Linked DNA regions of Homo sapiens. The protein of the gene in region 4 purifies or fractionates together with the protein of the main gene of each other region. This does not show direct contact. Each region holds a gene or a part of one and is shown on either strand. Other genes may lie near its edges.

The links.
Region 1: the proteins of CASQ2 (region 4) and PPP1R9A purify together in Homo sapiens (affinity purification with mass spectrometry; 3 studies listed by BioGRID and IntAct, with this or other methods). This does not show direct contact.
Region 2: the proteins of CASQ2 (region 4) and MARK3 purify together in Homo sapiens (affinity purification with mass spectrometry; 3 studies listed by BioGRID and IntAct, with this or other methods). This does not show direct contact.
Region 3: the proteins of CASQ2 (region 4) and EPB41L4B purify together in Homo sapiens (affinity purification with mass spectrometry; 3 studies listed by BioGRID and IntAct, with this or other methods). This does not show direct contact.

Annotation. Positions count from the first base shown.
Region 1 is NC_000007.14:94,910,076-94,917,831, forward strand, and holds part of PPP1R9A (neurabin-1), read left to right. Parts: 5' UTR 1-38; coding exon 39-1,433; intron 1,434-7,756. UniProt on the Homo sapiens protein: Binds to actin filaments (F-actin) and shows cross-linking activity. Binds along the sides of the F-actin. May be involved in neurite formation. Inhibits protein phosphatase 1-alpha activity.
Region 2 is NC_000014.9:103,464,895-103,472,650, forward strand, and holds part of MARK3 (MAP/microtubule affinity-regulating kinase 3), read left to right. Parts: intron 1-662; coding exon 663-899; intron 900-1,077; coding exon 1,078-1,197; intron 1,198-1,448; coding exon 1,449-1,548; intron 1,549-2,184; coding exon 2,185-2,297; intron 2,298-3,138; coding exon 3,139-3,292; intron 3,293-7,756. UniProt on the Homo sapiens protein: Serine/threonine-protein kinase. Involved in the specific phosphorylation of microtubule-associated proteins for MAP2 and MAP4. Phosphorylates the microtubule-associated protein MAPT/TAU. Phosphorylates CDC25C on 'Ser-216'.
Region 3 is NC_000009.12:109,212,428-109,220,183, reverse strand, and holds part of EPB41L4B (band 4.1-like protein 4B), read left to right. Parts: intron 1-3,038; coding exon 3,039-3,262; intron 3,263-6,365; coding exon 6,366-6,484; intron 6,485-7,756. UniProt on the Homo sapiens protein: Up-regulates the activity of the Rho guanine nucleotide exchange factor ARHGEF18. Involved in the regulation of the circumferential actomyosin belt in epithelial cells.
Region 4 is NC_000001.11:115,723,336-115,731,091, reverse strand, and holds part of CASQ2 (calsequestrin-2 precursor), read left to right. Parts: intron 1-3,969; coding exon 3,970-4,100; intron 4,101-5,538; coding exon 5,539-5,584; intron 5,585-7,756. UniProt on the Homo sapiens protein: Calsequestrin is a high-capacity, moderate affinity, calcium-binding protein and thus acts as an internal calcium store in muscle. Calcium ions are bound by clusters of acidic residues at the protein surface, especially at the interface between subunits.

The DNA.
Region 1 (7,756 bases), on a different chromosome or scaffold from region 4:
ATCATTATGAACATTGGCTTTTCACCCCTGAAGTGAAAATGTTGAAAACTGAGTCTTCAGGTGAACGAACCACTCTCAGAAGTGCCTCTCCTCACAGGAATGCATATCGAACTGAGTTTCAGGCACTGAAAAGTACCTTTGACAAACCCAAGTCAGATGGGGAACAAAAAACAAAAGAAGGTGAGGGCTCCCAGCAGAGCAGGGGGAGGAAATATGGCTCCAATGTCAACAGAATTAAAAACCTATTTATGCAGATGGGTATGGAACCCAACGAGAATGCTGCAGTCATTGCCAAAACAAGGGGGAAAGGTGGACATTCATCTCCTCAGAGAAGAATGAAGCCCAAAGAATTTCTGGAAAAAACAGATGGCTCAGTTGTTAAGTTGGAGTCTTCTGTTTCTGAACGAATTAGTAGATTTGACACTATGTACGATGGCCCTTCATATTCCAAGTTCACTGAGACTCGAAAGATGTTTGAGAGAAGTGTGCATGAATCAGGACAGAACAACCGCTATTCCCCAAAGAAAGAGAAAGCTGGAGGGAGTGAACCTCAGGATGAATGGGGAGGTTCCAAGTCCAACAGAGGCAGTACTGATTCCTTGGACAGCCTTAGCTCCCGAACTGAGGCTGTCTCCCCAACTGTGAGTCAACTGAGTGCAGTATTTGAGAACACTGATTCTCCCAGTGCCATCATTTCTGAGAAGGCTGAAAACAATGAATACTCAGTGACTGGGCATTATCCCTTGAATTTACCATCTGTTACTGTTACAAATCTTGACACATTTGGTCACCTGAAGGATTCTAATTCCTGGCCTCCTTCAAACAAGCGAGGTGTTGATACAGAGGATGCTCACAAGAGTAATGCAACTCCAGTACCAGAAGTGGCTTCTAAAAGTACCTCTCTAGCTTCGATACCTGGTGAAGAGATCCAGCAGAGCAAGGAACCCGAGGACTCCACATCTAATCAACAGACTCCCGACAGCATTGACAAAGATGGTCCTGAAGAACCTTGTGCTGAAAGTAAGGCAATGCCAAAGTCCGAAATCCCTTCACCACAAAGCCAACTGTTAGAAGATGCTGAAGCTAATTTGGTTGGAAGGGAGGCAGCAAAGCAACAGAGGAAAGAACTTGCAGGTGGTGATTTCACCTCTCCTGATGCTTCTGCATCCAGTTGTGGAAAAGAAGTACCTGAAGATTCAAATAATTTTGATGGTTCCCATGTGTACATGCACAGTGACTATAATGTGTATAGGGTGAGATCCAGGTATAATTCAGACTGGGGAGAGACAGGCACTGAGCAGGATGAGGAGGAAGATAGTGATGAGAACAGTTACTATCAGCCTGATATGGAGTACTCGGAAATTGTTGGATTGCCAGAAGAAGAAGAAATCCCAGCAAATAGGAAAATTAAGTTTAGTAGTGCTCCTATTAAGGTAAGTGTGTTTTCTCCATTTTGTTTTCTAAATTTGTTTTTAGTACTAGGGCCTAATTGTATGTAGAATAGACTTGACAACTAGTAGGAGTTTTTGTAAGGGATTCAAGATTGTTGATACCTTTAAAATCACCTGTTGTCAGGTGATTTTAAAAGTTCAGAGTTTGAGAGATATCAATTACATTTCTTAAATGTGCTTTATAATGGCATACATCAATAGTGAGTAATATTAAAGCTGAAGAAGTTCGGGAATTGTGAGATACGTTCCAATGAACTGGAGTATGAGTATTGTGAGTACTGAAAACCAGGAGTGTTAGTTTGAAATGTAATTACTTTAGTTTTACCTAAAATTATTCATAAATAATATTTTCTGAATGTACACACTTTAAGGTATGAAGTATAATGTACAATGGGAGAGTTTTGGTAATCTGGGAATAATATTCGATTTACTTTCTTAAAAAAATCTGAGTTATTAAGTGTAAGTGGATTGTGAGGAATTTTGTTGGAACTTTTTTTGGGGGGTACTGCTAGTTGGTGGTGAAAATTTAATTTATGGAAATATATTAGCTGACTTAAATACTTTGAAAAGCTTTGACTGTAAACAGTCTGAGTTCAAAATTTGTTACATAGCTTTAAAATGAATTTTTTGAAAGAAATAACATTGATTTGCCATTCATGGATTTATTTTTACCTCTTAAAAACTGGATAAATGCCAATGGAATTCACATGCTCTAATGACTTCACTTAGTTAACATTTGGTATGGAAGAATAGCACAAAGTACATCAGCAGTGGGTGGTAGAATGTTATTAGTGGATAATGGCAATAGGGGCAGGAGGTGGTTGGTTGAGTACCAGAATCTCCTGGGGTGCTTTTTCAAAGTGTACTTGCCCACAGCTCAGTCCTGAGATGCTGGCATGCTCTCCTTGGGGAATCTGGAAGGTTATGGTGGCAGAATGTGTAGTTTTAGACCACATTCTAGGGGCTTCTAGCTTACACAGTGTGTATATATGATAGACTTGGAATTTGATATATTCCTGTAAATTTTCTCCTCAAAATCTAAAATCACTGTCTGTTATTTTCATTTTGGGACCTTCCATATAAGGCTCTAAAATATAAATTTACATAGAAATATTTAAAGAGAAATCTGACATTGTTCTGATTATGAAATACTATTCTGAAATAAAGTAATAATCTATGAAATTATTTACAGATGTTAGCAGGCAGACTTTCATTTTATTAGTGTAAGGCAGAAGTTCTGGGTCAGAATGGGTCATGTTAAGTTAAACTGTAGTTTAAAATAAACTACAGATGTCAATTCAGTTTGAAAGTAAGTTTCTTTGCAGTGCTTTACCACCTTCCTTTGTGATTATCTCCTCCTGCCTTCCTATTCCTCCCCAACCCCCACTGCCCTACTCTAGATGGTCTTTAAAGGTGCCTTTCCCCCAAGCCTATCCAGTGAGCTCCTAAACTTTGCCATTCGCATCCCCCTTGAACATCATCTTTCTACCCTTTAGGAAGAAAGCAATAAGATTAAATCGTTTCACATTGAGAAAGGCAGGAATAACTGAAATGAACTCTTCAAGGAGTTGTTAAACCCAGTGACTAACTTTTTAATACAAGGGATAGCAGCTTATGAAAATTTATCAAGTAGACCACTACCCAGTCAACCAAGTGGGACACCAGCCTGTATTTGGGTCCTGTGCTGCACAAAACATAACTGTGCACTAGTTGGTTTAATGGATTTTAAAGGATTTATCATTGAAATGTGTCTGTTTATATGTGAACAAACCAGCTTTTTGGGAATGATATTTTGAAGTTCAACTAATTTGTGCTATGATTGCTTATAACAATAAGTATTTTGCCTCTTAATTTTCATATAATGACAATTTTATCTAGCAAATAATGAAACATTACCTACATTTAATGCATTTCATCAAGAATAAGATTTCTAAAACAAATTAGATCAAGCATAAGACTTGTGAAACAAAGATAATGTATTGCATTTGATTGGGCAGTTAACAGGACTTCTTGGAGTGGATTAAGTTTGCAAACAGAAGATTCATTCTTAGCCCTTTGTAATGAATAACACAATTACTCTTTCTTGCTGCTTCCATTGTTAAATATGCAAGTGGATTCACTTGGAAAATTTGAGAGCTGCTTTCTACTGGTCATGGTGGTGGCCATAGTGTTTAGGTTATTCTCCAATTAAGATTTTTTTTGCTGCAGAGGGTGGTAATACCTTATTAGATCCAATTAAAGTATTTATTGAAGGCTTATCATGTGTGTTCTCTCATGCTGTTAGCTGAAGAAGACACAAAAATCTGTAAGGTTACCCCTTTCCTCTGTGAGTTTGTAGAGTCAATTCTTAAACACATTGTATTTAAAATCCATAAAAAACAGTATAAAAAACTATGCCAAAATTTTTAATGTCCTGTGAGTCCTTTAGTGGCACTTGGTTGTACTAAATGCATATAGTGAAAGGGATTTGATAGATTATTTGGAAAGGAATACATGCAACCATTTTCTATCTGTGTTTCTTTATTCTTTTCATAAAACTTTATTTATGGAATGGGAAGTTGCAATTCCTAACCTCAGTCTTTTCCTTTGAAGCTTAAACATACTTCCTCTTAAAGAAGCAACAGGGAATGTATTCTTTAAATAAATGATTTTTAGAACTTTTACATTCTTTTCCTGGCTGTCACTTTATTCTGTACTAGGTTAAAAATTCCTAGCACCTTTAGTTTTTTGTTATAGATCTTATTTATCATCTTTGTATGTGTAATATTGTCCTCAGTGACTACTTCAGTTCTTTTTATAGATGTTTTACATAGATATTTCCATAAGATGTCTTAAATCTGGACTTAGAAAAACATCAGAATAATAGTTGATCTTTCCTGTGTAGCATATACCTTGTACTTGTACATATACCTTGATTTTTAAAAATGGTCAGACTGTATTGCCAGCCATCAGTTAGTATGACTTTCCTATCTTTCACAGACAGTTATTTCTTATTAGATAGATTGTTATGTTTCATAGGGTCATGAAATATTAGAATGGGATTAATAATAGCAAATTAAAATCCAACTTTGAGATATGGCATGGGAGAATGTTATGGACCATGCTAATTCGAGATGGAATTATGCCTTCATTTTCAGGAATTTTTCAAAATGAAAGGATTGAATTAAAGTAAATTTGTCTTAGATGAATCAAAACAAGAGAGGGTGACATGTCATTTTTTTCTACTAATTCAGAACATTTATGGAGCCCCTAATATGTGTCAGGGACAATGCAAATATAACAAATACAACAAATACATAAAATGAGGAGCTGATGAAGTAAGGAGCTGCTGGTCGGTGGGACGTGTACAGCCCATTAAGGAAGCTCTCAGGCTGTTCCCAACTCTGTGCTTTGATGATCTTTCTAAGGTTGCTGCAGCCTCATTAAGGAAGTCACAACCTTTCTCTGTTTCTTATGTCCTTTGGATTGGTATTTTTTTTTCCCCTCAAATACTATTGTGTTACAATGGATTGTTATTCTTGAAACAGCATATCTGAAAAAGATTTTTCTAACTCACAGTAAGAAGGATATTGCAGAGTTAATATTGAGGTACATTGTGCTATATTTTGTGTTTTCTCAAATCATATGGAGCTTTACAGGATTAGAATTCAAATAATCAGCAAGGGCACCAGAGCTTCTTCAAACCTTACATGATAGTTGTTGAAAATGGATCTTCTTGTATTCTCTCCCTTTTTGGGGGCTCCGAGTCATAGTTAGGGCATTCATGGATATATGAAGTTTTTTTGTTCAGGATGGTTTTCAGGGAATAGTTCTGTTGAGATCCAACTTTTTGTCTTTGCGGAGGCTTCCTTTATAACAGTTTTGTCAGTGCTTCTTAAACTTTAATATGCATATGAATCACTTGGGAGATCTTGTTAGCATCAAGATTCTGATTCAGTAGGTATTCTATGGGAAATTACCTTGATACAATGGTTGAGCTACAAGTACACCAGCAGGCAAGCTATCTCAGAGGTTATGGAATAGAAGACTCAGAAAACAAATTAAAATGCTTGAATCACATGATTTACCAAACCAGTTAAACACAAATCCAGAAGCAAGAGGAAAGCTATGGAGTAAGTTAACACACTTCAGGTTCAAACCAGGTTGGAAGGACCACGCTACCTGTCCTGGATAAACAATGTTCCTATGTCCCATCTTTCTTTCACATAACCCTTCCCCATTAATGATGTGGTTATGAGGACCAGAGCTGATGTTTGAGCCAAGACTCCATAGACTAATGATTTCCTGGGTCGATGATACACACTTGTTCTGTTGAAGAGATGTGACAAATACACTTAGGTACAGCCGTAGCTTTGCTAGTTTGCCTGCTGATGAGCCATGGGACCATCCTTGGTGTCTTCAGTAGATGACTGATATGGAAGTAATGTAGCTATCAGTCCAGGCATAATGGTGACTTGGTATTTCCACTGCTTTTTGTCTATAAGTAAATCTCATTCATTTTATCATAATTTCTATTTATTTTATTGTTGTCATGTCTTACTCCCAGCTTACCTATTTATTACGCATCTGCTGACTGCCTTCATTTCACCAGCTTGCATTCTCATTATCAATACTTGGCCCAGCCTGAGTGTTGCCTCTGTCTCATAAGTTGTTAGTTTATTTACCATCTATGATTATCACTTCTTAAGTGTTTCATCCATCCCATTAGTTTTGTTTACCTCTATAATAGAATTTCATATTCTGAAATAATACAGGAAAACCACGTTAACAGTATGTCTGGAGGGGAACCTTAGATTTTACATTTCTAACAAGCTCTCAAGTGGTGCCGATGCCGCTGATCAAGAGATCACTCTTTGGAATATGAATTTGAAGTACAATCTTCTGGCTTCTGAAAGTGGCTGGCCATAGCATGTTAGGGAAGCAACATGTAATAAATTTCCTTTCCAGATGGGCTGCTATATCTGGTTGGGTGGAATAATATTCTCTGAAGATGAAATAAGGTATAATCTTGTAAAGTGCATGAATACTCTGTTTCTGGATCCCAAAGTGGATTATTATCCTTAACTCAAGGCATTTGGGTCATTAAAAAGTCACATCCTAGGCTCTTTGTGTGGTTTAAGTTTTTAGTTATAAAAAGTTGGGAGGAAGAAGTTTTTAATGGAATCAGAAATTTCATTTCTTTCATTCTTTTGCAAGTGTAAATTAATAAACTTAGTATAAGAATGGTCATATGATTTAACTTGCTTTTCTTGGATAACTTTGATGGTACAACTTTTTTTTTGTTTGTTTTTTGTTTTTTGTTTTTTGAGAGGGAGCTTTGCTCTGTCACCCAGGTTGGAGTGCAGTGGCACGATCTCAGCTCACTGAAACCTCCACCTCCTGGGTTCAAGAGATTCTCAGGCCTCAGCCCTCTGAGTAGCTGGGACAACAGGCATGCACAACTATTCCAGACTAATTTTTATATTTTTAGTAGAGACAGGGTTTTTACCATGTTGGCCAGGCTAGTCTCGAACTCCTGACCTCAAGTGATCTGACCGCGTTGGCCTCCCAAAGTGCTGAGATTATAGGCGTGAACCACTGTGCCCAGCCGATGGTATAACATTTAAATTGGATTTCCTTTTAAATTTTTATGTTTTATGACCTATGCTTCATAACCAGGTAAATGAAATATGTCAAATATTTTAATATACTTTGTAAAATCAAATAATGAAGATTTGTTGAATGAACCCCTTTTCTAAAATCCAGAGGTATAGCTATACTTTTAAACTGAACAGTGATCATTTAGTGTTTAAAAAGGGATTCTTTTGACAGCAGATTATTTCAGATGTTTACTGGTATTTATTTGTAATAGAAATATTTAAAGTTTCTTGTTTTTTGTTAATTTAATTAATTTTTTTTGAGACAAGGTCTTGCTCTGTCACCCTGGCTGTAGTGCAGTGATGCAGTCATGGCTCACTGCAGCCCTGACCTCTGGGGCACAAGTAATTCTCCTGCCTCAGCCTCCCATGCAGCTAGGACTACAGGCAAGCGCCACCATGCCTGTTATTATTTTTTTTTTTTTTGTAGAGATGAAGTCTCACTATGTTGTCTAGGCTTGTCTTGAACTCCTGGGTTCAAGCGACCCTCCTGCCTTGGCCTCCCGAAGTGCTGAGATTAAAGGCATGAGCCACTGTGCCCAGCAGTTGCTTGCTTTTTGGATCATACATACTTTGTGTTCCCTCTAAACTTTCTCACAAATGACACTAATTGTTGGGTTCATGTACTTGAAAGATAAGATGCCAAATTTGGAGGAAAATCACTTTGTG
Region 2 (7,756 bases), on a different chromosome or scaffold from region 4:
CACTATGTTGCCCAAGCTGGTCTTGAACTCCTGGGCTCAAGTGAGCCACTGTACCTGGCCCTGCCCCATATTATTCTTGTTTTTTGGTTTTGAGATGGAGTATTGCTCTGTCGCCCAGGCTGGAGTGCAGTGGCACGATCTTGGCTCACTGCAACCTCTGCCTCCCGAGTTCAAGCAATTCTCCTGCCTCAGCCTCCTGAGTAGCTGGGATTACAGGTGTGTACCACCACACCCAGCTGATTTTTGTATTTTTAGTAAAGACAGGGTATCACCATGTTGGCCAGGCTGGTCTTGAACTCCTGGCCTCAGATGATTCGTCCACCTCGGCCTCCCAAAGTGCTGGGATCATAGGTGTGAGCCACCGTGCCCAGCCCCCATATTATTATTATCAATTGAAAAACTCAAGGCTTTTCTTGATCTTGGGACATTGATGTTTAAATTAGTGCTAGAATTAATCTGTACTTCATGTTTGTTATTGTTAATATTATAAAATAAGGAGTTCTGACTTGTCTCCTGTTTTTTTCTCTAGAAAGAATGTTTTCACATTAATTAGGAGGTAACTTCATATCATTACAGAAAGCTTTTCTAAAATGCCTAATCCTGTCATAATTCTAATTCTATTTTGGCTAAATTTCATTTTTGTCTTGATGTTTTCCCTCTAGGCTGAAAATCTATTGTTAGATGCCGATATGAACATTAAAATAGCAGATTTCGGTTTTAGCAATGAATTTACTGTTGGCGGTAAACTCGACACGTTTTGTGGCAGTCCTCCATACGCAGCACCTGAGCTCTTCCAGGGCAAGAAATATGACGGGCCAGAAGTGGATGTGTGGAGTCTGGGGGTCATTTTATACACACTAGTCAGTGGCTCACTTCCCTTTGATGGGCAAAACCTAAAGGTATAAGAAGCTGCACCCATGTACTTCACTAAACTAAAAGAAGTTTCCTAATATTACATGGCTTAATATTTTTAACATTATATCAGTGCGGGGGGTTTCAGGGGGTTTTTTGTTGTGTTTTGTTAACTAAACCTAAAGGTTGACTTACTCGTTTTCTTTCCTCTGTACCTCTCCAAAGGAACTGAGAGAGAGAGTATTAAGAGGGAAATACAGAATTCCCTTCTACATGTCTACAGACTGTGAAAACCTTCTCAAACGTTTCCTGGTGCTAAATCCAATTAAACGCGGCACTCTAGAGGTAATCATGTAGGTGGAAACAAGCAGTAACTTTGGAGAGTCTTTAGAGTGACCTTAGATCTTTGCTTGATTTGTATGCCATACTGGATATATCCTGCGGCTTTTTAAGCAAGAATTGAAACATTAAAAAATATTTTTTGAGTTTATGCTTTGAACGATAGTCAATGAAATGTTGAAAATAAATTTTTGTAAATATTACGGTTATCAGAATATTTCATTTTACTCTGCTAATGAACAGTTTACCTTTTTTAGCAAATCATGAAGGACAGGTGGATCAATGCAGGGCATGAAGAAGATGAACTCAAACCATTTGTTGAACCAGAGCTAGACATCTCAGACCAAAAAAGAATAGGTAATCACTCCATGCCTGCATGTTCATGTGTTTTTGTCTAAGTAACATATTTCTGTTTTGACTCATGTCTGTGCCTAAAATGTGAATAATGGAAAGTTAAGCACAAGTCATATGAACAGTTTATCTGTTCTGTCATATTTAGGAACGTAACTACCTGCAGTTTCCTATAATGGCACCCAGTAACTCTGAAACAAGTGCCCATTTATGTTACAAAATATATGTAATATGTCATCTTTTAGGTCAAATGAAAATTATTTTACCCTACAAAAGAATGATTTCTGGCCGGGCGTGGTGGCTCACGCCTGTAATCCCAGCACTTTGGGAGGCCAAGGCGGGCAGATCACCTGAGGTCGGGAGGTCGAGGCCAGCCTGACCAACATGGAGAAACCCCATCTCTACTAAAACTACAAAATTAGCCAGGCACGGTGGCTCATGCCTGTAATCCCAGCTACTCGGGAGGCTGAGGCAGGAGAATTGCTTGAATCTGGGAGGTGGAGGTTGCGGTGAGCCAAGATCGCGCCATTGCACTCCAGCCTGGGCAACAAGAGTGAAACTCCGTCTCAAAAAAAAAAAAAAAAAAAAGGATGATTTCTTACCCAAACAAAACACATAAACTGTATTATGCCCTTCTTTTAGATATTATGGTGGGAATGGGATATTCACAAGAAGAAATTCAAGAATCTCTTAGTAAGATGAAATACGATGAAATCACAGCTACATATTTGTTATTGGGGAGAAAATCTTCAGAGGTAAGAGTAATCAGAAAGAGCTGAAATACCCTGTATGTAATTATTAGTTTATATAAACTGTTTTCTTAGTTTTTATCTTTTGAATATTTGTAACATTTGATACATCATTTTTTAGATTTACTTGCAAATAGCAAATCTAAATCCTATGACTATTATAAGCTATTTTAACTTAACCCTTAATGATGGATATTGGCCAGGCGTGGTGGCTCATGCCTGTAATCCCAGCACTTTGGGAGGCCAAGGCGGACAGATCACTTGAGACCAGGAGTTCGAGACCAGACTGGCCAACATAGGGAAACTCTGTCTCTGCTAAAACAAACAAACAAACAAAAAATTAGCTGGGCGTGTTGGCGCTTGCCTGTAATCCCTGCTCCTTGGGAGGCTGAGGCAAGAGAACTGCTTGACCCTGAGAGGCAGAGGTTGCGGTGAGCCAGGATCACGCCACTGCACTCCAGCCTGGGTGACAGAGCGAGACTCTGTCTCAAAAAAAAAAAAAAAAAAAAAAAGATGGATGTTGTCATAAACCTGGTCTTTCATAAATTAACCTGTAGTCATTAATAGCTTAGAAATGACGTAAAGCATCAGATGAAGTAAATACAACATTTAAAGTTATTTGAGAAAGCCTGGAAAGAAAATCATAAATACCTTACCTTTAGTGTCTTTCCAGCCGTCAGAAAACTACTTTTGCTTGAGTTTAGGGTTGTCATTTTTGTACGTTGTGATTCCTCCTCTCTCTGAATGAACGGTTTATGAGAGGTCTGTGTTAATGAAAAGTTTAACTTCCTAATAAGCCATTTGGGTTCGTGTTGTGGTTTGCTCTGTTTTTCTCATTTTCTCTTAGCTGGATGCTAGTGATTCCAGTTCTAGCAGCAATCTTTCACTTGCTAAGGTTAGGCCGAGCAGTGATCTCAACAACAGTACTGGCCAGTCTCCTCACCACAAAGTGCAGAGAAGTGTTTCTTCAAGCCAAAAGCAAAGACGCTACAGTGACCATGGTAAGTTTTGGAGTATCCCAGTGCCTTCTCTTAGAGTCCAGGCAAGAGGTCTCCTAGCACTGGGAAGCATTCTCTTGCTCAGAGCCTGGCTTGATGTCCTTTCTTGGCATTGCTTTCTTTCTTTCTTCTTTTTTTTTTTTTTTTTTTTTTTTTTTTGAGACAGAGTCTCACTCTGTTGCCCAGGCTGGAGTGGAGTGGCACAATTTTGGCTCACTGCAACCTCCACCTCCCAGGTTCAAGCGATTCTCCTGCCTCAGCCTCCTGAATAGCTGGGACTACAGGTGTGTACCACCATGCCTGGCTAAGTTTTGTATTTTTAGTAGAGACGGGGTTTCACCACATTTGGCCAGGCTGGTCTTCAGCTCCTGGCCTTAAGTGATCCACCTGCCTTGGCCTCCCAGAGCGCTGGAATTACAGGCATGAGCCACCGTGCCTGGCCAGCATTTTTTCTTAGTGTTCCTGCAGGTGCTGCCATGATTACATATTACTTCAAGGCTCTTATCTTCTTTATACATGCAGTAGATTTTTGCTGGATAAAGCTTAGTTGAGTGGAAACCTTACCATTTGCCCTTCTAGAACCTCTGCTTTAATCTGTAGTTTTCCTTTTTTTTTTTTTTTTTAAATGGAGATGGGGGTCTCGCTATGTTGCCCAAGCTGGTCTCAAACTCCCAAGTTCAAACTATTCTCTCACCACAGCGTTCTAAAGTGCTAGGATTACAGACGTGAGCCACCATGCCCAGCGCTAGAACTGGGCGCTGTACCGAACTGAATAGAACTGCTAGTCTGTAGTTCTATTCACTCTCTTCACCTCTGCATTGGATTTACTTTGTAGAGTAGCACTGTCCAGTAGAACTTTCTGAGATGATTACAGTTTTGTGTATCTGTGCTGTCCAGTCAAGAAGCTACTGGCCACTTGTGGCTATCAAGTACTTGAACTGAGGAAATGATTTTTACCTTTTTTATTTCTATTTATTTTTTATTATTTTTATTTATTTATTTATTTATTTATTTTTCAGATGGAATCTGGCTCTGTCGCCCAGGCTGGAATGCAGTGGCATGATCTTGGCTCACTGCAACCTCCACCTCCCAGGTCCCAGCAGTTCTCCTGCCTCAGCCTCCTGAGTAGCTGGGATTACAGGCATGCACAACCACACCCGGCTAATTTTTGTATTTTTAATAGAGACAGGGTTTCACCATATTGGCTAGGCTGGTCTTGAACTTGGGAGCTCAAGCAATCCACTCACCTTGGCCTCCAAAAGTGATGGGATTACAGGTGTGAGCCACCGCGCCTGGCCTTATTTATTTGTTTATTTTTTGAGATGGAATTTTGCTCTTGTTACCCAGGCTGGAGTGCAATGGCATGATCTCCGCTCACTGCAACCTCAGCCTCCGAAGTAGCTGGGACTATAGGCACACACCACCACACCTGGCCAATATTGTATTTTTAGTAGAGACGGGATTTCACCATGTTGGCCAGGCTGGTCTAGAACTCCTGACCTCAGGTGATCCACCCACCTTGGCCTCCCAAAGTGCTGGATTACACGTGTGAGTCTGTAATTGGCCTGGCTGATTTTTACCCTTTTAAAATTTTCCTGGCCGGACATGGTGGCTCATGCCTGTAATTCCAGCACCTTGGGAGGCCGAGGCGTGTGGATCACTAGGTCAGGAGTTCGAGACTAGCCTGACCAACGTGGTGAAACCCCATCTCTACTAAAAATAAAAAAATTACCTGGGCATGGTGGTGTGTGCCTGTAATTCCAGCTACTCAGGAGGCTGAGGTAGGAGAATCGCTTGAACCTGGGAGGCAGAGGTTGCAGTGAGCCAAGATCGTGTGACTGCACTCCAGCCTAGTGACAGAGTGAGAGTCCATCTCAAAAAAAAAAAAAAAAATTTGTACTTAAGTGTAATATATAGCCAGTTGTGGCCAGTAACTCTCATAATAGACAGGACAGCCCTGGAGAATATATGGAACCTCAGTTTTGCCTTAATTGGTTTAAATGTTGTACTGTGTCATTCTCATCCATACTCTTGCTGTTAGTGTGGTTAAGCCACTCTCCCTTTTAAACTTCACCTAGAAGCCAGTCCTTTATGAGACATAAGACTCCCAGTGGGTAGGCTTACCAGGCTCTACAGTTGCTCTGCCTTCAAGGCAGCCTGTGTGTCAGAGTCCTGAGGCTAGCGTGTGTGTTTACTTGCCCATAACTATAAATGTTAACATTGCAGATATTTCCTTTAATTCTACTATTCCAGGATTCAGGAACTAAATCTATTTTTTTTTTTTTTTTTGAGATGGAGTTTCACTCTTGTCACCCAGGCTGGAGTGCAATAGCGCGATCTCGGCTCACTGCAACCTCCGCCTCCTGGGTTCTAGCAATTCTCCTGCCTCAGCCTCCCGAGTAGCTGGGACTACAGGCATGCATCACCATGCCCAGCTAATTTTTTTATTTTTAGTAGAGACGGGGTTTCACCACATTTGGCCAGGCTGGTCCCGAACTCCTGAACTCAGGTGATCCATCCACCTCAGCCTCCCAAAGTGCTCGGATTACAGGCATGAGTCACTGCGCTCGGCCTCATTTTATTTCTCTTCTCTGGACATTTTCCATCTTAATACTTTCATCTTGAGATTTGACACTTAGGACTGCACAGGGCATTTTAGGTGTGGACAGCTTTGATTTTGTACTAAAAATGATTACACTTGGCTTGATTTCCATTTCTCTTCCTTCTGTTGCTTGCCTTTCTACATGGTTTAGACTGAAGCAACAGTGTACTAATATCACTAGTAAACCATCTACAGTGCCTGCTATTCTAGGGTGTAACTGAGAGCTCAGAACTCATTCTCACATCAGGATTTGTGCTCCTAGCATTTGTAGGTGACGTGTTGATCTAGGTCTGCCTTTTTTGTGTTCATGTTAGTCACTAACAAGGGGGGTTTCTAGTGCTTATGGACCACATGGCAATTAAATGCCCATATATTGCCCTGAAACCATCTGGTTTAACTTGTCCCTCAATCCTAGAAGAAACCTGACAATGGGATTTTCACATTTCTCTAAGGAATATGTTAGTAAGTTATTCCTTAAGCACATAGATTCCATCCAGATTATTAGTGCCTTTTTCCCCCCAGCTCAATTTTAGAGATAAAAAGAGCTTTAGACATGGTATTGTACACTCACCAAACCTCTGTTTTATCCCTAAATAGACCAAGAGAGATTACCAAGTCTCCCAAGGTTACATAGTAAATGAGAAACACCTGGGGCAGAGCTCAGGCCTGCTGGTCCAAGCCCTGTGTTTTTTCTCCACTGAAGCACCTCATTGGAGTAGCTTTTTCATAATCCTCATCTTTCTTGGAATTTCTGAAGGCAGGCAAGCCTGTATAGCCGGGCTAACTTTCACCTCATCCTCCTGCCTCGTCTCACCTCTCCCTTCCCTTTTCCTTGCCTGTGGATGCTGACCTCTGCATGGGTGCCTGCTTCTCTAAAGCTACGATGTAATCTGTAGCTGTCCTTCCTCGTTTGAGACCCACATGTGAACACCCCATATGTGTGCACTTTTTCTGCGAATGGTGATCATCTGATTTTCAAGGGGTTAGCTTGTTTTTTAAAAAATGAAAAAAAAAATCACTGTTTACTAATCAATGAGTGGTATTGGGGCAATTTGGTAGTTCTCAGAAAAAAAATTAATTTGGATCAATTTCTCACATCTTATACAAGGATGAATTCTAATTGGAGTTAAGATACAAATATAGGGCTGGGCGCAGTGGCTCATGCCTGTAATCCCAGCACTTTGGGAGTCCGAGGCAGGTGGATCACGAGGTCAGGAGATCGAGACCATCCTGGCTAACATGGTGAAACCCTGTCTCTACTAAAAAATAGAAAAAATTAGCCAGGCGTGGTGGTGGGCACCTATAGTCCCAGCTACTCAGGAGGCTGAGGCAGGAGAATGGATGAACCCGGGAGGCGGAGCTTGCAGTGAGCCGAGATCGAGCCACTGCACTCCAGCCTGGGCGACAGAGCGAGACTCCGTCTCAAAAAAAAAAAAAAAAAAGATGTAAATAAAACTCCAGAAATATTGAAAGAAACCTTGGGATTATTTGCTTTGTAACTTGGACTGGTGAAGGTGTTTCTGTCACCCCAAACACCAAACCCATGAAATAAAAGACTTACAAATTTGATTACATAAAAATGAAATTTCTGGCCGGTCGCATAATCCCAGCACTTTGGGAGGCCGAGGTGGGCGGATCACGAGGTCAGGAGATCGAGAACATCCTGGCTAACACGGTGAAACCCTGTGTCTACTAAAAATACAAAAACAAAATCAGCTGAGCTTGGTGTCAAGTGCCTGTAGTCCTAGCTGCTCAGGAGGCTGAGGCAGGAGAATGGCGTGAACCTGGGAGGTGGAGCTTGCAGTGAGCCAAGATCATGCCACTGCACTCCAGCCTGGGCCAACAGAGCGAGGCTCCATCTCAAA
Region 3 (7,756 bases), on a different chromosome or scaffold from region 4:
TGACAAAATAACACACCTCCTCTGATTTCAAGCATGTGGGTTATTAATTGGAAAAACCCAAGTACTTCAAGCAATAAATAAATAAAGGCATTTACTGGAGCTTATAATGGAAAAGTTCAGTGGTAATGCCAGCTTCAGGTGTGGCTGGAACCAGGAGCTAAAATGATACCATTAAGTTTCTTCTCTCTCTGACTACCTCTAACCTCTGCTCATCTTGTCTTTCTTTGTGCATTGGCCTCAGTCTCACAGGGACTACTTCTCTGTGTCCAAAAAAGATGTTCACAAAGAGCCCTAACTTCCATCATCCTTACAGCCGGAGCCAGCTTACCCATTACACACAGTAGGCACACAATACTTAGACTCACAATACTTTCAGGGGCCCACGAAAAGGTTTTAAATATTTTTTAAAATAAGAAAAAAATGGATTTTCCGTTGAAGAAAATGTTTTAGTATATGTTATTAACATATTTACTTTTATGCAGTTGTGAAATTTAATTTTTAGTTAATTTTTATAGAAAATGGACAAAGGTGGCCAGGCACGGTGGCTCACGCCTGTAATCCCAGCACTTTGGGAGGCGGGTGGATCACAAGGTCAGGAGATCGAGACCGTCCTGGCTAACACGGTGAAACCCCATCTCTATTAAAAATACAAACCAATAGCCAGGAGTGGTGGCAGGTGCATGTAGTCCCAGCTACTCAGGAGGCTGAAGCAGGAGAATGGCGTGAACCCGGGAGGCGGAGTTTGCAGTGAGCTGAGATCGCGCCACTGCACTCTAGCCTGGGCGACAGAGCGAGACTCCATCTCAAAAAAAGGAAAGAAAATGGACAAAGGCAAAAGTGCTTGTGGCACAAAAAGGCACAATAAGGCCCTGCTTGCCTGTTACAAAGAAAGAGAGAGCCTTCCTTTCAGTTTTCATGTGTTAAATCTTAGGAAAAACTCTGATTGTCCCTAATTGGATGACATTCCAGAACACTCTCATTAGAAGGATGCAGGACTCTGATTGGCCAGGCTCAAGTCTCAGGCCCACCCCTGAGGAGGAAATGTCAATCCCATACAAACACAAGGAATGGGGTTTCCTATAAGAAAGAAGATTCTGTTTCAAGAACTGTCCAGCAAAACCTAACTGTCTTCCCCCGAATGCTCTTTCCCTTACAAACACCTTCCCCCAGGAGAACTGATTGCTTCCACTTCTGCATTTTCTTAGCAGTTTGTTCTAGTATGATTGTAAGTGACTGAATCACAGAGCTTCCTACTCTGGAGTGTGAGTTCCTTGAAGACAGAGTGAAAGAGTGGGCAGTAGAGATCTGAACCATGGGAATGAGCAGAAAAAGGGGTTAGCCCTGCCAGGGAATAAGAGGAAGGGATCTTTATCTGGGTCTTAAAGGCTGGAAGTCTTCCTGGAAGAAGGGGTATTTTCACTGGGTTGACAGATGAGGAAGGACTTCAGGAGGCACCAAGAAGTAAGAGGCATCGGGATGGGAAGGAGTTAGGGTGGGAAGTAGAAGGATGTAGCAGGAGATGAGGCTGAAAAGAGAAAGGGCCAAGACTGGGGGCGGGGGGAGGTGCTGTCAGTGCCACATAAAGGATTGTGGCTTTTATCCTTCAAGCCAGGGCTCTTCACCTGGGTCCATGGAGAGGCTCTAGAGGGCCTGATATTGTGTGTAGAATGTTGTTTGTTGGTACAGGGAAGGTTCGTGGTATTCACCAGATTTTCAAAGGGGTTTCTGTCTTAAAGTGGTTAAGAATTATTAGTGTTAGGCTGGGTGCGGTGGTTCATGCCTGTAATCCCAGCACTTTCGGAGGCTGAGGCAGGCAGGTCACTTGAGGTCAGGGGTTTGAAACCAGCTTGGCCAACATGGTGAAACCCCATCTCTACTAAAAATACAAAAACTAGCCAGGCATGGTGGTGTGCACCTGTAATCCCAGCTACTCAGGAGGCTGAGGCATGAGAATTGCTTGAGCCTGGGAGGTGGAGGTTGCAGTGAGCTGAGATAGTGCCACTGTATTCCAACCTGGGCAACAGAGTGAGACACTGCCAAAAAAAAAAAAAAAAAAAGAATTATTAGTATTAGAGATATATTCAAGCTCCTTGAAGAAGGAGAGCATGGTCTGGAATGTAATTAGAATAGCACTCTGGCAATTACTCTGTGGAGGATGGACTAAAGGAACGAGCAGAGACGGGGAGAGCCAGCAGGAATCTGTTACAAGAGTCTAGGTGGGAGATGACACGGCCTTCAAATGGGGCAATCCTAGTTGTTTTTTGTTTTTTTTTTAAAAGGAGGTGGTCCACTGGAATTAAAAGATGTTGTAAGCTGGGCACAGTGGCTTACACCTGTAATCCCAGCATTTTGGGAAGCCCAGGAGGGTGGACCACTTGAGCCCAGGAGTTTGAGACCAGCCCAGGCAACATAGCGAGATCCTGTCTCTACAAAAAATTTTAAAAATTAGCCAGGCATGGTGTCATATCCCTGTGGCCCCAGTTGCCTGGGAGGCTGAGGTGGGAGAATCACTTGAGCCTGGGAGCTTGAGGCCACAGTGAGCTGTGTTTGCACCACTGCACTCCAGCCTGGGCAACACAGCAAGACCCTGTCTCAAGAAAAAGATGTTGCAGCACTGATGTTAACTGGAGCTTTCTGCATGTTGTGGGTGACAGAGAGGAAGAGAAACTGACCCCAAGACTTCTAGTTTGCATTATGATCTTGTCATAGGATTATTTACAAATGATTTTTTATTATTGTTTTTACCTCTTCCTCTCATTTAGAGAATGCCTTTAAAAAAAAGAAATAAATATTATTTCATTTAATTTCAAATACTTCTTTAAGTTACAAGACTTAAAGTCTCTGATATATACAAACTTCCACTTTGCTCTTTTTCTTAAGTATAATATTACCATTGTATATACTTTATAATAACTACAGATCTAGTTTTTGAGTTTATTTCTTTCAGTGTTTAATGCCTAGAAAACGTCTTTGAAAGTACACAGAGGGCTTGCAAGGCATTCTGCTTTTCTAAATCCTGACTGTGTCACCCTCCACAGCTACCCGCTCCCTTCCCCAGTGCTTAGCAGCTCGGACCGGTTGCCTTTTGGCATTGAGGAGAATGGGGGCACACCGTTCCTCACCGCAGCTTCAGGAAGGCATCACCACCAGCACCAGCATCAGCATCAGCACCAGCACCACTCAAACTACAGCCTCTCACTGACCCTGGAGAACAAAGAGGGGCCTCTGAGGTCCCCAAACTCCAGCAGCAAGTCCCTTACAAGTGAGTAGGGGTGGAGGGGGCAAGGCAGGAGAAGGGGGAGCAATGCTGCAGGGCACGAGAGTTCCCTAGATTCTTAAGACAGACCCTTGCGGTGCAGCACACAATGGTTGTCATGTTATGCTGGGCTACCGGGTTTGGGCCAGAGTAGACAAGAGCCTTATGCATTTGAGCAGAAGCACTTTAGGGATTATGGTTTACCAGTAAACTCTAATTTCATTATAGGGTCACAGTTCTCCACCTCCTTTCTTTTTTTCTTTTCTTTTTTTTTTTTTTTGAGATGGAGTCTGGAGTCTGGCTCTGTCACCCAGGCTGGAGTGCAGTGGCATGATCTCGGCTCATTGCACCCTCCCCCTCCCAGGTCCGAGCAATTCTCCTGCCTCAGCCTCCCGAGTAGCTGAGATTATAGGCATGTGCCACCACACCCAACTAATTTTTGTATTTTTAGTAGAGACAGATTTTGACTATGTTGGCCAGGCTGGTCTCAAACTCCTGACTTCAGGTGATCCACACATCTCGGCCTCCCAAAGTGCTAGGATTACAGGCGTGAGCCACCATGCCCGGTCAAGAAGTGAAGGCTTTTGAAAAGTGATTAAGTCATGAGAGTTCCACTCTTATGAATAGATTAGTGCCTTACAAAAGAGCTGGACGAAAAAAATCCCAAAGTGCTGGGATTACAGGCGTGAGCCACAGTGCCCCGCCTCCACCTCCTTTCTTAACAGTTCTCTGCCTCTGTGGTACCCAGCACTGGCTTGAGCAATGGAAAAGAGAAAGAGGGGAGGGGAGTGATGGCTGGACTTTCTACTTTCTTCATCATAGAAAAACTCATTCTATCCCATTTTTGACATTCCACTTGGGAGAGCAAAGTGGTGTCAGGTAGATCCAATCTGTCTACTGTTATGGGTCCCAGAAAGAGAAGTTACAAAAATAGAGAGTGAGCAATTAGAAATTTTATTATTTTATTTTATGACAGGGTCTTGCCATGTTGCCCAGGATGGTCTTGAACTCTTGGGCTTAAGCAACACTCCTGCTTCAGCCTCCCAAAGTTCTGGGATTATAGGCATGAGCCACCATACCCAGCCCAGAAATATTGTTAGCAATATGATAGAATGAGTTTATATCTTTTAAATCTAATAAAAATATGGGCTTTGATTCGGCATGTCCGTTATTTTATTTTTCTAGAAACTCACTTTTATTATACGTTACCAAAGAATTCATCTTTGGTATGAAAAGAACCTGTTGTTTATCAAATGTGGTTTGAAAAGTACTGAGGGCTGGACGCAGTGGTACGTGCCTATAATCTCAGCTACTCAGGAGGTTGAGGCAGGAGAATCGCTTGAAACTTGGAGGCAGAGGTTGTAATTATGCTTGTAATCCCAGCACTTTGGGAGGCCGAGATGGGTGGATCGCCTAGGTCAAGAGTTCGAGACCAACCTGGCCAACGTGGTGAAACCCTGTCTCTACTGAAAATACAAAAATTAGCTGGGCCTGGTGGCGTGCACCTATAATCCTGGCTACTTGGGAGGCCGAGGCACGAGAATCACTTGAACCTGGGAGGTGGAGGTTGCAGTGAGCCGAGATGGTGCCACCGCACTCCAGCCTGGGCGACAGAGTGAGACTCTGTCTCAAAAAAGAAAAGAAAAGAAAAGAAAAGTACTGAAGTGGAGGCTTCGATTCTAGCTCTTACCCTTGAACTGAGTTCCCTCTTTGATCTTCTATTTTCTCATCCATGAAATAGGGTAGAGGGTATTGAGATGATGACCAAGGAATCTTCCAGCTCTGATATTGTGTGAGTCTGTGAGCTGTTGAGACAGGATGGGCCATCCAACCTTCACCTTGGGGCCACAGGGAACAACTCTGTGTCAGCTGAGCTGGAAATGGAAACTCGACACCCACTTGGTATTGAAGAATCCGAACTCTGTCCCTCATCACTATCCACACTGCCCATGCCCTAGTCCCTGCCTCATCTTTGTATATCTAAATAACCATAACAGCCTCCTAAGGGGCACCCGCTCCAGGACAATCTCCAAATAGTAGCTGCCAAAGTCATAGTTCTCACCACATAACTCTGACCACATGCCATAAGACCTTTCATTAGCTCTTCACTGTCTGGGATAAAGTCCTCGCTTCTGAGCAGGGCCATACACAGACCTTGCGTATCCTGACCCCTGCCAAGGTCTTCATTCTTCCCTCCACTCCTCACCATACTCTAGCTACACAGAACTACTCTCTTCTTACAAAATACTCTACTGGGTCTCAACTCTGTCCTTTGCACCTGCTGTTCCCTTTGCCTGGAATACTTTTCCCCACCTTGTTGAACTCCTACACATCCCTTAGCAGCCCATTCAAATGTTCGCTTGTCAGTGAAATGTTCTCTAACACCCATCCTCAGTTCCGTCCTGCTCCTTTAGCAATTAAATAAACCTTTTCTCAGTCTTCTTCGGAATATCTCCACATGTGTCCGTCATCCCCATTAGATTAAAATTTTGTCTCATTCACCTCTTTCTTTCAGCTCCCAGATCCCAGTTGCTAACGATACTTGGCACAAGTTTTAATATGTAATGAATATTTAATATTTAATGAATATTTAATGTATTAATGAGTAAATTCAAGCTGGAAGGAGAAGTAGTGGCAAATGAATCCAAAGTAGCACAGAAATAAAAATCAATGGATTTGATTTTAGGAACATAACATGGCTTTTAAGGGCACGTTATATGCCTGTTTGCCTGAACACTAATCTTTCCAATTTGCATAATGCTTTTCCATTTTTAAAGCATTTATACATAAATGACTTCATTGGATATTCACAGCAACCCTGCAAGGTAAGTAATTTTATTTTCATTTTTAAATGGCTCAGAGGGTCAGAGAGGCAAAACAACGTACCCAGGGGCGTCCAGCTCATGTGTGGGACAGTTAAGCCTTGAAACCTTGACCTCAGATATTCTCACACCCTATCAGCTGATGCATACTGAAGGCATGAGAGCTGCTGGAGGAGGAGGCCGGCAGAAAGGGTGCTGGGAATCGGGCGCTGGCAAGTGTCCCTTTTCCCCTGTATCTATCTGTCCTTTCAACCTTTCCTTATTTATTTCTCCTGGCTGCTTTGTAGAACTGAGTCCAGGAACACCTGCCTTGTTCAGTGAAGCCGCTGCCCATCTAAAGAAGCTGGAACTGGAAACTGTGAAGGCTGCTGGACCCTGGCCTCCTCTGCACATCAACATAAACAAGGTGCCAAGGGCCGGGGCTCTGCCATGACCATGGACTTGGTGCTGACATCAAACCTCTGATTACTACCCTAGCCTGCCTGCTAAACCAAGTGCCTTTGCCTTGGAGGGATCTCTATTCCATCTTTCCTGACATTTCTGTTCAGGCTGTCTTTTAGGAGCAAATATTTACTTACCTTCCTTTTGGGTGAATTATAGCATTAGGCGTCGTTCCCAGTGTTTTGCCTGACAGGCTAGATCTGTTTGTTAGTTGTCTCTCCCTCCTACTAGACCGAAAGCTCCAGAGGGAGCATCCACATTTACCGCTTTGCATTTCTAGCCCTCTATCTCCCTCTGACAATGCCTGGCACATTGTAGATGTTCAGTAACCATTTGCAGATGGAAGGAAGGGAGGGATTAAGATACAGAAGGAGAAGGAGACAGGGCAGAAGCCAGGCCCCCTTTTGACTAGACCTATTCTTACATCCAAAGAGGCAGCCTTATAAAAGTCAAATTTTATCTTAGAACGATACATACCACTGCTGGATTCAGTCTGCCATTTAGTTCAACCTTCTCAATGTCTCAGACCAGAGGAAGGGAAATGACTTTCTCAAGGTTGCACAGCCCTTGACAACCTTCTCAATGTCTCAGACCAGAAGAAGAGAAATGACTTTCTCAAGGTCACACGGCCCTTCACAAGGTTGCAAAGCCCTTGACTCTCGATCCAGTGTCCTTGGCACTCCAACATGCTTCCTCGTTTTCTTTGCCAGCGTTTCTCAACTTTGGCACTAGCAACATTTTGGCCTGATGACTCTTTTTTGCAGTGGCTGTCCTGTGCATTGTAAAATGTTTTGCAGCCACAATGCACTAAATGCCACTAGGGACCCCCATCCAGTTGTGACAACCAAAAATGTCTCCAGACATTGCCAAATGTTCTCAGAAGGGCAAAATCTCCCTAGTTGAGAACCACTGTTGTACATACATTTTAATTTTTTAAATCCCCTAAGGAAGAATCTTTTTCATTCATGGTTCCTTTCTTCCTCTTTAATGCTTAGCTTTGTCCCTTTATGAGAGGGAATAGGAAGAATTTGGAAGAACTGCTCTGTGCAGCATGGGAAGGTTACACCTCCTGCCCTTCCCGTCCCTGACCTTTCCCATAATCCCTCAGCAGGGCGGCCTAAAGTTCCTCTGATTACTAATGGACCCCAACTGCAGGTTTAACCTTCAAAAAGCCCTGCTCATTCACTTTTTTTTTCTATACCTCCCTCCATGATTGCCAGCTAGAGAGAATTCCTCC
Region 4 (7,756 bases):
GTACACAGAGGGGAGAGCACTGAGAGGACTCTGATGCCATTTGGTGCTTAAGAACTTGCATCCATCAGTTGGGGTGGAGGGGGTGTCCAAGGGGAGATGGTGGAGTCCAGAAGGCATGACTGCACCTGGTAGAGCCTCAGTGGTTTCCAGCAGGGAGTGCTAGGACAGAAGAGGAGAAAAGTAATAAATGTGAAGTGGCTGAAAGGACCTGTTTGTACAACACATCCTAGGGAATCTCAGAGGGACCTGGAGGTGCTTTGTTGAGGTCTGAAACCAGGAGAGGCAAGGGACAAGAAAGCACTAATGCGGTCACAAAAATGCAAAAAACAACTGGCACTAGTAAAAGTGGATATAACAAGAAGATCTGGCCATTGATGAGATGATGAGAGAAGGCCTCAAAATAACTTAAGATAGCAAGTCTTGGCGTTAAGACAGCAAAAATTATGAAGCTACTGAAAACATTAGGAAATCCAGGAAGAAGAATCTATTGAGGAACAAGAGATGGGGTTATGAGTTCTATTTTCTAAAAGTTGGGGAAACATTCAACTGGAAATGTCCTTAATTAATTAATTAATTAATTCAGTCATTCACTCAACAAGTATTTATTGAGTGCCCTTTATGTGCCAGGCACTCTTCTTAGTGCCAGGGACACAACATTGAGCAAAGCAGATTCCTGCCCTTTAGAATTTAAAGTTTATTGTGGGAAAGAGAAGATGGAAAGACAGAAAGTTCAAAAGTAAACAAACCAATAAATACATCATATGAGTTGCAAGACTGTAAAGAGGGTGAGATGTCATGGCTGCTGATGTAAATTTGTCAGTCAGTAGTTCCCAACCACTATCCATATTAGTATCCTCCAACAAGCTTTTAAAACCATTGGTCTCTGGGCCCCAGCCCTGGAAATTTTAATTTTTTAGGGTTGTGGCAGTGTCTGGGAATCTGCATTTTCAAAAGCCACCCAAGGAATTTTAAAGGGTGTGGAGGTTTAGGACCAGTACTGATCTATTAATACTAATCCTAAATCAAGCCACACGAAGGCCCAACCTCTCTGAAGAAGCAGTTAGAACAAGAAAGTGTCAGAGGGCCAAGGATGGTTCCACTCTGCTGCACCTCACAGCCTGAAAAATATCAGTTCTTAAAATCCCATGTCCCCGCCCACTGACCTGTTCCTCTCTCTGTCTGAGTGAACAATGAGACGAAAAATCACTTTCTTTTTTAAATCACACTGGAGCCAAAGGGTGCTGTGACTAAACAAAGTTAGTGGAGAAGATAGATGTTGGGAAGACCTAAATTTAGTAATGGCAAAAACCATTACTTTTGGCAAAAACTGCGATTACTTTTGCACCAACCTAATACTTGAGTTGGTTTCATTGGCAACAACTAAAATGACTTGCTAACTGGAGGAAAAATGATTTGTATCAAAATTCATATACATGCACATGTCAGAAAATTGGCATTGTACTTTGTAGTTTTCTTATCTTTGTTGAAATCTATTCCAACTAGTTAACAGATAAAAGCATGAAAGAATTCATTTTTATGGACCCATTTGGTTCTTAATAATATAATTCATTCTTATATAATGCTAATACCCATGAACCAGATCTCCTCCTGGAATAATGCCTTGGGTTCAGTAGGCCCCACTAAATACTTACTGAATAAATGAATGAATAAAAGCTTCAACCAATCAAATCCCTTCAGTCCTTACCATCCAAGATAGGAATAATAAGAATGAAAGAGGGGGTCGGGCGCAGTGGCTCACGCCTGTAATCCCAGCACTTTGGGAGGCCGAGGGGGGAGGTGGATCACCTGAGGTCAGTAGTTCAAGACCAGCCTGGCCAACATGGCGAAACCCCATCTCTACTAAAAATACAAAAATTAGCTGGGTGTGGTGGCCTGTGCCCATAATCCCAGCTACTCGGGAGGCTGAGGCAGGAGAATCGCTCGAACCTGGGAAGCGGAGATTGCAGTGAGCCGAGACTGTGCCATTGAACCCCAGCCTGGGCAACAAGAGCAAAACTCTGTCTCACCAAAAAAAAAAAAAAAAAAAAAAAAAAAAGAATGAAAGAGAGGGATTCTCTGAGATACAAGATGAGAGCACTCCATGATGGTGGTAGGTAGACAGTGAAGAGATCCCTGGGAAATTTTTACTTAGCATTTCCAAGACTTAAATTAAGGACACGACAATCCAATTTTTACATTCTTAGACAGCACTGTGGACCCAGACATTGGCATTCAGAGACGAGACTATCACCACCACCAGGCGGGTTTGACTTCTGGCTCTGCTCCCTCCAGATATATGATCCTGACAAATTTCTTACCCAAATTGTGCCTCAGGTTCATCATTTGTAAAATAACTATGATAATCATTCTTACCACATACAATCAAAGTGAGAATTAAACAAAGAATCAACCTAAAACACCTGGCAGCAGTGCCTGGCACGTGATAAGCACTCCATATGTTTGTTATTATTACTGTTTTCATTCTGATCACTTCTCCTTTCATGGAAACAGTCTTCTGGTTCCTAGAATACATAGTAAGTGAACTCAGAAAACCAGAATTCAATGTCATTTTCTTGCCCACTCTGGCTCCCTGCCTCATCACCTCATCATCTACATCACCCCCCTACCCCTGAGAAGAGGGAAAAACAGTTAGAAAAAACTCCACATCTCCCTCTCTTAAAATTAACCTGACAATAAAATCTCCCTTGACTGACTATAGCTGTCAACATGGCCTGTTTTCTTGATCTCTGAGTAGGATGCTGGAATTTCTCTCCCTTAAGTACTATATGAAATGCCTTTCAGAATATAGTGACCTGGAATTCATAGCAATTGATGACAAAAACCATATGGATATCAATGTTTCCTCAGAATGGATCTCCTTGTGTAAGAGCTTATGCAATACCCAGCTCCTCCCCTTCCCCAGTTAGTTGCAGCCGCCCTGGGTCACGGCACCACGGGTTACCACCACAGTGCATCAGCTCTTAGGCAATTCCTCTTCAGCTTAAAGGGAACCACTGTTCATCCCTGCGCTTTCTTGAACCACAGCTCTGAACTAGAAAAGAGTGGCATTTGGTTTTCTATAGAGCGTTGCACATTCCAGGCCTCTGAAATCATTTCACAAACAGAGGTCCTGAGTTCAGCAGCTGTGCAGGCAAACAGCAACCATTCTGCCTTGACAACACACTGAACATGTGGCTGCTTTAATCCAGAGAGAAAATGTCTTCCTGGCTATCGGCTGGCTCTCCGAGCTCTTTATCTGTTGTAAGATGAGCAAATCATCCTGGCTTACTGGGGTCTGTCCAAGTTTCAGTACTGAAAGTCCTGCATCCCAGGGAGCCCTTCCACCCAGAACAAAGCAAGATGGTCAGTCACCTCATAACTGCTGACAAACTGGGCAGCTCCCAAAGCCTGACAAACCATGAAGCAAGTTGGGTACTGAGAGATTTAACTGTAGGGCCAGCACTTCAACCTAAAAAGCAATTAGGGCTATGAGCAGATCAAAGACAGGCTAATGGGTTGGGTTCTGATTCTGAGTACCTATATGCCTTAAGGATCTCCATCAATTGCCTGTTTTATCAACATTGGTTCCATTAAATCCATACAACACAGGATAGTAAATATGCTCCATTGGCATTTGCTTCCCATCCAGCCCTGGCAAATGCAGTAGAGTGATGGTGATTGTAGAATTAAATTTCCCACTTCGCATCTCAACTGCTCCCTGCCCCTGCCCGACCCTCATTTGCTAGATAAGTCTTTTTCCTTCCTATCTTTCCTTCTTTGATCACAAAAGAAGATTAGTCTAGCCAGGCCTTGGGTGATAAGTTCCTGTCACTTCAACATTGAAGTTAAAACTGTACATCTGTTTTTATGTCTTTGCCGGAAAACATACACACTTATCTTAGATGGACAACACACTGCTATTCTAGACTAGTATTCAAATAAACTTTGTCTTATTTCTAATGGTTACAGGTTGCAAAGAAATTATCTTTGAAGATGAATGAGGTTGACTTCTATGAGCCATTTATGGATGAGCCCATTGCCATCCCCAACAAACCTTACACAGAAGAGGAGCTGGTGGAGTTTGTGAAGGAACACCAAAGGTGCCTGAGATGGCATGTGGGGGCTGGGGGCCTGGGGTCTGGGGAATGGAGAGGAGCCTCTCTGTGCTAACATTTCAGACCTGCCAAGAGCAACAACCTAGTTAGTACCCCAGCAGTACAGAACTCAGTAGTATGGCTTTGTTGATCAGTAATGACTAGCAGGGATGTTATTACTTCTGAATCTAAGTCTGCACCTGCAAGCAGAGTTTGATAAATCCCTCAGTCAGCAAATCCCCTCAAAGCCAGGGCAAGATATAAATAAAATTCTATACTAGGAATGAGAGCAATTTAGTGAAAGTTCCCATATACCAATAACCATGCCCAGTGCTTTAGGGAAACTATTTTATCTAATCTCCAACCTTAGGGAGTAATTATTATTATCCCAATTTTACAGATCAAGGAATTGGACTCAATAGTTAAGTAACTTAGCCAAGGATGAACACTCTATGCATAGAACTTCTGGGAGAGAAATGCTTGATACCACTTAGTGTAGCTCCAGCATGGATCAGCAAACTTTTTCTGTAAAGAACAAAATGGTAAATATTTCAGGTTCTGTGGGCCAGATGGCGTCTGTAGCAACTACTTAACTGCGGCTGTGGCATGAAAGCAGCCATGGATCATGTATAAACAAATGGGTGTGGCTGTGTACCAGTAAAAGTTTATTTAGGAAAACAGGAGGCCCTGGCTGGATTTGTCCCACCAGCTGTAGTTTTTTGACCCCTGCTCTTGAGGGAGGGAAGATATGGGAATATGGAACATGGTAGTGGACTCACTGGCTTGTCCCTCCACCCTACCTGGCATGTACACGAGTGTGTTCATTGGACCTGCAGTACTGTGATCCCCCTCACCTGGACAGTCCTAGTTCCTTCAGGAAGGCAGTACTTGGAGGAGCAAATATTAATATGTCCAGCACTATTTGCCAATATTCAGAAAGAAATGAAACTATGAGCAAAATATAGATCCTGTCTGCTCCCCTAAATATCCCTAAAGGACTTTCAATGTATACACCAGATGATAAAACAAAGGCAGTTTTAACCTACAAAATCCGAGATTTCCTGTTTTCCCCCTCAGGTTTCTCATTCCAGGCCTGCTGTGGGCTCTCTGGAGTGGTGGCTATCTGTGAGGAAGGAAATGGCATCTTGCCCTGGGAATGAGCTGACCCTGTGCCCTCTGACCCATTGTTTGTAAAAGACTTTATAATTCTTGGATCAGTGGGTCTATGAAAAGGCTGAGTGCCTTGGCCCAGCTCGCTGTCTGACACAGCAGAGTAGAGCAGGTCTGTTTCCTTAGAAGATAAGTGGGTTTTTAGGGCTCTCCCTGCCTTGCAAAGGAAGCATCATCTCATTTTACATTTCATAATGCTGTGGCTGCTGTGTCTGCCACAGTGATCCCTACTCAAGGAAGCTCTTTCTTTTTTTTTTTTTTTTTTTTTTTCCAGACCCACTCTACGTCGCCTGCGCCCAGAAGAAATGTTTGAAACATGGGTAAGAAAGAGGCAAACTCTCTTTGCCTTGTAGAGATGAGTATAGTCCCAAAGAGGAGTGCTTCTTAGATTAAGTCCCCAAACTCAAACCAAGTTTATTTGGCTGAGGTGGATGTCTAGATGAGTATTTGAAACATGGACAGATTGGGTACGACGGCTCAGAACTGTAATCCCAGCACTCTGGGAGGCCGGGGCCAGGGATCACTTGAGTTCAGGTGTCTGAGAGCAGCCTGGGCAACATAGCAAAACCCTGTCTCTACAAAAAAATGCAAAAAGTAACCGAGCATGGTCGCATGTGCCTGGAGTTCCAGCTACTTGGGAGGCTGAGGCAGGAGGATTACTTGAGCCTGGGAGGTCAAGTCTGCAATGAGCTGTGATCCTGGCACTGCGCTCCAGCCTGGGCAACAGAGTGAGACACTGTTTCAAAAAAATGAAACAAAACAAAACAAAAACATGGACAACTTCATGCTCAATTAAAACACAGTTCTCCATGGATCAATCCAAGCCTCTTTGGTACTACTCACTAGGCAAAATTGCTCTTAGTTAATTTCCTGCAGTGACTATAGCTTCTGTTCATTGATCATCAGAGCCACACAGTAACACAGTGGAAGGAACTCAGGCTATAAAGTAATAGAGACTAGGGTTCAAGTCCAGAATCTGCCACCTAGTAGCTTTGTGTACTATGTCAAGTCCTGTGGCCTTTCTGAGCTGTCTAAATTTCCTCATCTAAAATTGGGACTTTTTATAAGGATGAATATGAAGAGTTCACTATATGGTAGCTGTTTTTTAAAAATATCAACTGAAGGCACTGGCAAGCAGCTGAGCCAACTTGTCTTCTAGGTTTGTGTCATGGATAATATGTCAGGCAGCTCAAACAGTGTTAGATAGAGGGCCTTGGAGATAAACCCCCAACCCACACCTTATGTACAGAAGTTCATAAATAACAAAGGCTGTGGAGCATTTTTCAAAGCATTTCATGCATCTTTTTATTTGGATCTTCCAATAGCTCTAGAAAGTGATGTAGAACAAGTATTATTAATTAGTCGGGCATAGTGGGGCACGCCTGTAGTCCCAGCTCCTTGGGAAGTTGAGGTGGGAGGATTGTTTGAGCACAGCAGCTTGAGACTTCAGTGAGACATGATAATGCCACTGCACTCCAGCCTGGGCAACACAGCAAGACTCTGTCTCCCCAAACAAACAAACAAAAACCAAATACTATTTTAGCCCCGTTTGACATAGTCAGAAACTGACGCTCATACAGATTAATCACTAAAAGACACATAACTAAAAACCATTAGTTCTTGGAACTTAAATATAAGCCATCTGGAGCCAAACCTGGTGTTCTCTGCAGAATGCCTCCCCAGAGTGACTATGTCCCCACAAGGGGCCATTTGGTGTGAGGGCTGGGAAGGAGGAGAAAGGAATTAACACGGAAGTATTTATCTGTTTAATTCTTTGAAGTGATGGATGAACAGAACCAGGGAGCAACTTGACACTGTTTTACTGGTCTGTAACTTACTTGGATGTTTGAAGGTAGAGCAAACATTTCACAAGATACCAAAGGGTAAATAATCCAGTCCAGAGGAGCGGACTATTTAATAACAACTCAGCACAATAGAAACAAACTTTCCTAACATTTAAACCTTTCAAAGATATTAAAAGGGTCTTATCGCTAGGCATAGTGACTCATGCCTGTAATCTCAGCACTTTGGGAGGCCAAGGTGGGCAGATCACTTGACGTCAGGAGTTCGAGACCAGCCTGGCCAACATGGTGAAACCCCATTCCTACCAAAAAATACAAAAATTAGCCGAGTATGGTGGCAGGCGCCTGTAGTCCCACCTACTCTGGAGGCTGATATAAGAGAATCACTTTCATCTGGGAGGCAGAAGTTGCAGTTAGCTGTGATTGCACCACTGCACTCCAGCCTGGGCAACAGAGTGAGACCCTGTCTCAAAAAAAAAAGAGTCTTATTAATGTATTTTAAAATAGTAATAGCAAAAAGATATAATAGTGCTTTAAAATAGTATTTTTTAAATTGTTTTTGCTTTTTACCCTAAAATAATTTCAGATGTACCAAAATAGTGCAAAGAACTTCAATATCTCTTCACCTAGATCTCCCAAATGTTAACATTTTACCATCCCTTCTAGCTACATAGATACATAGATAGATGA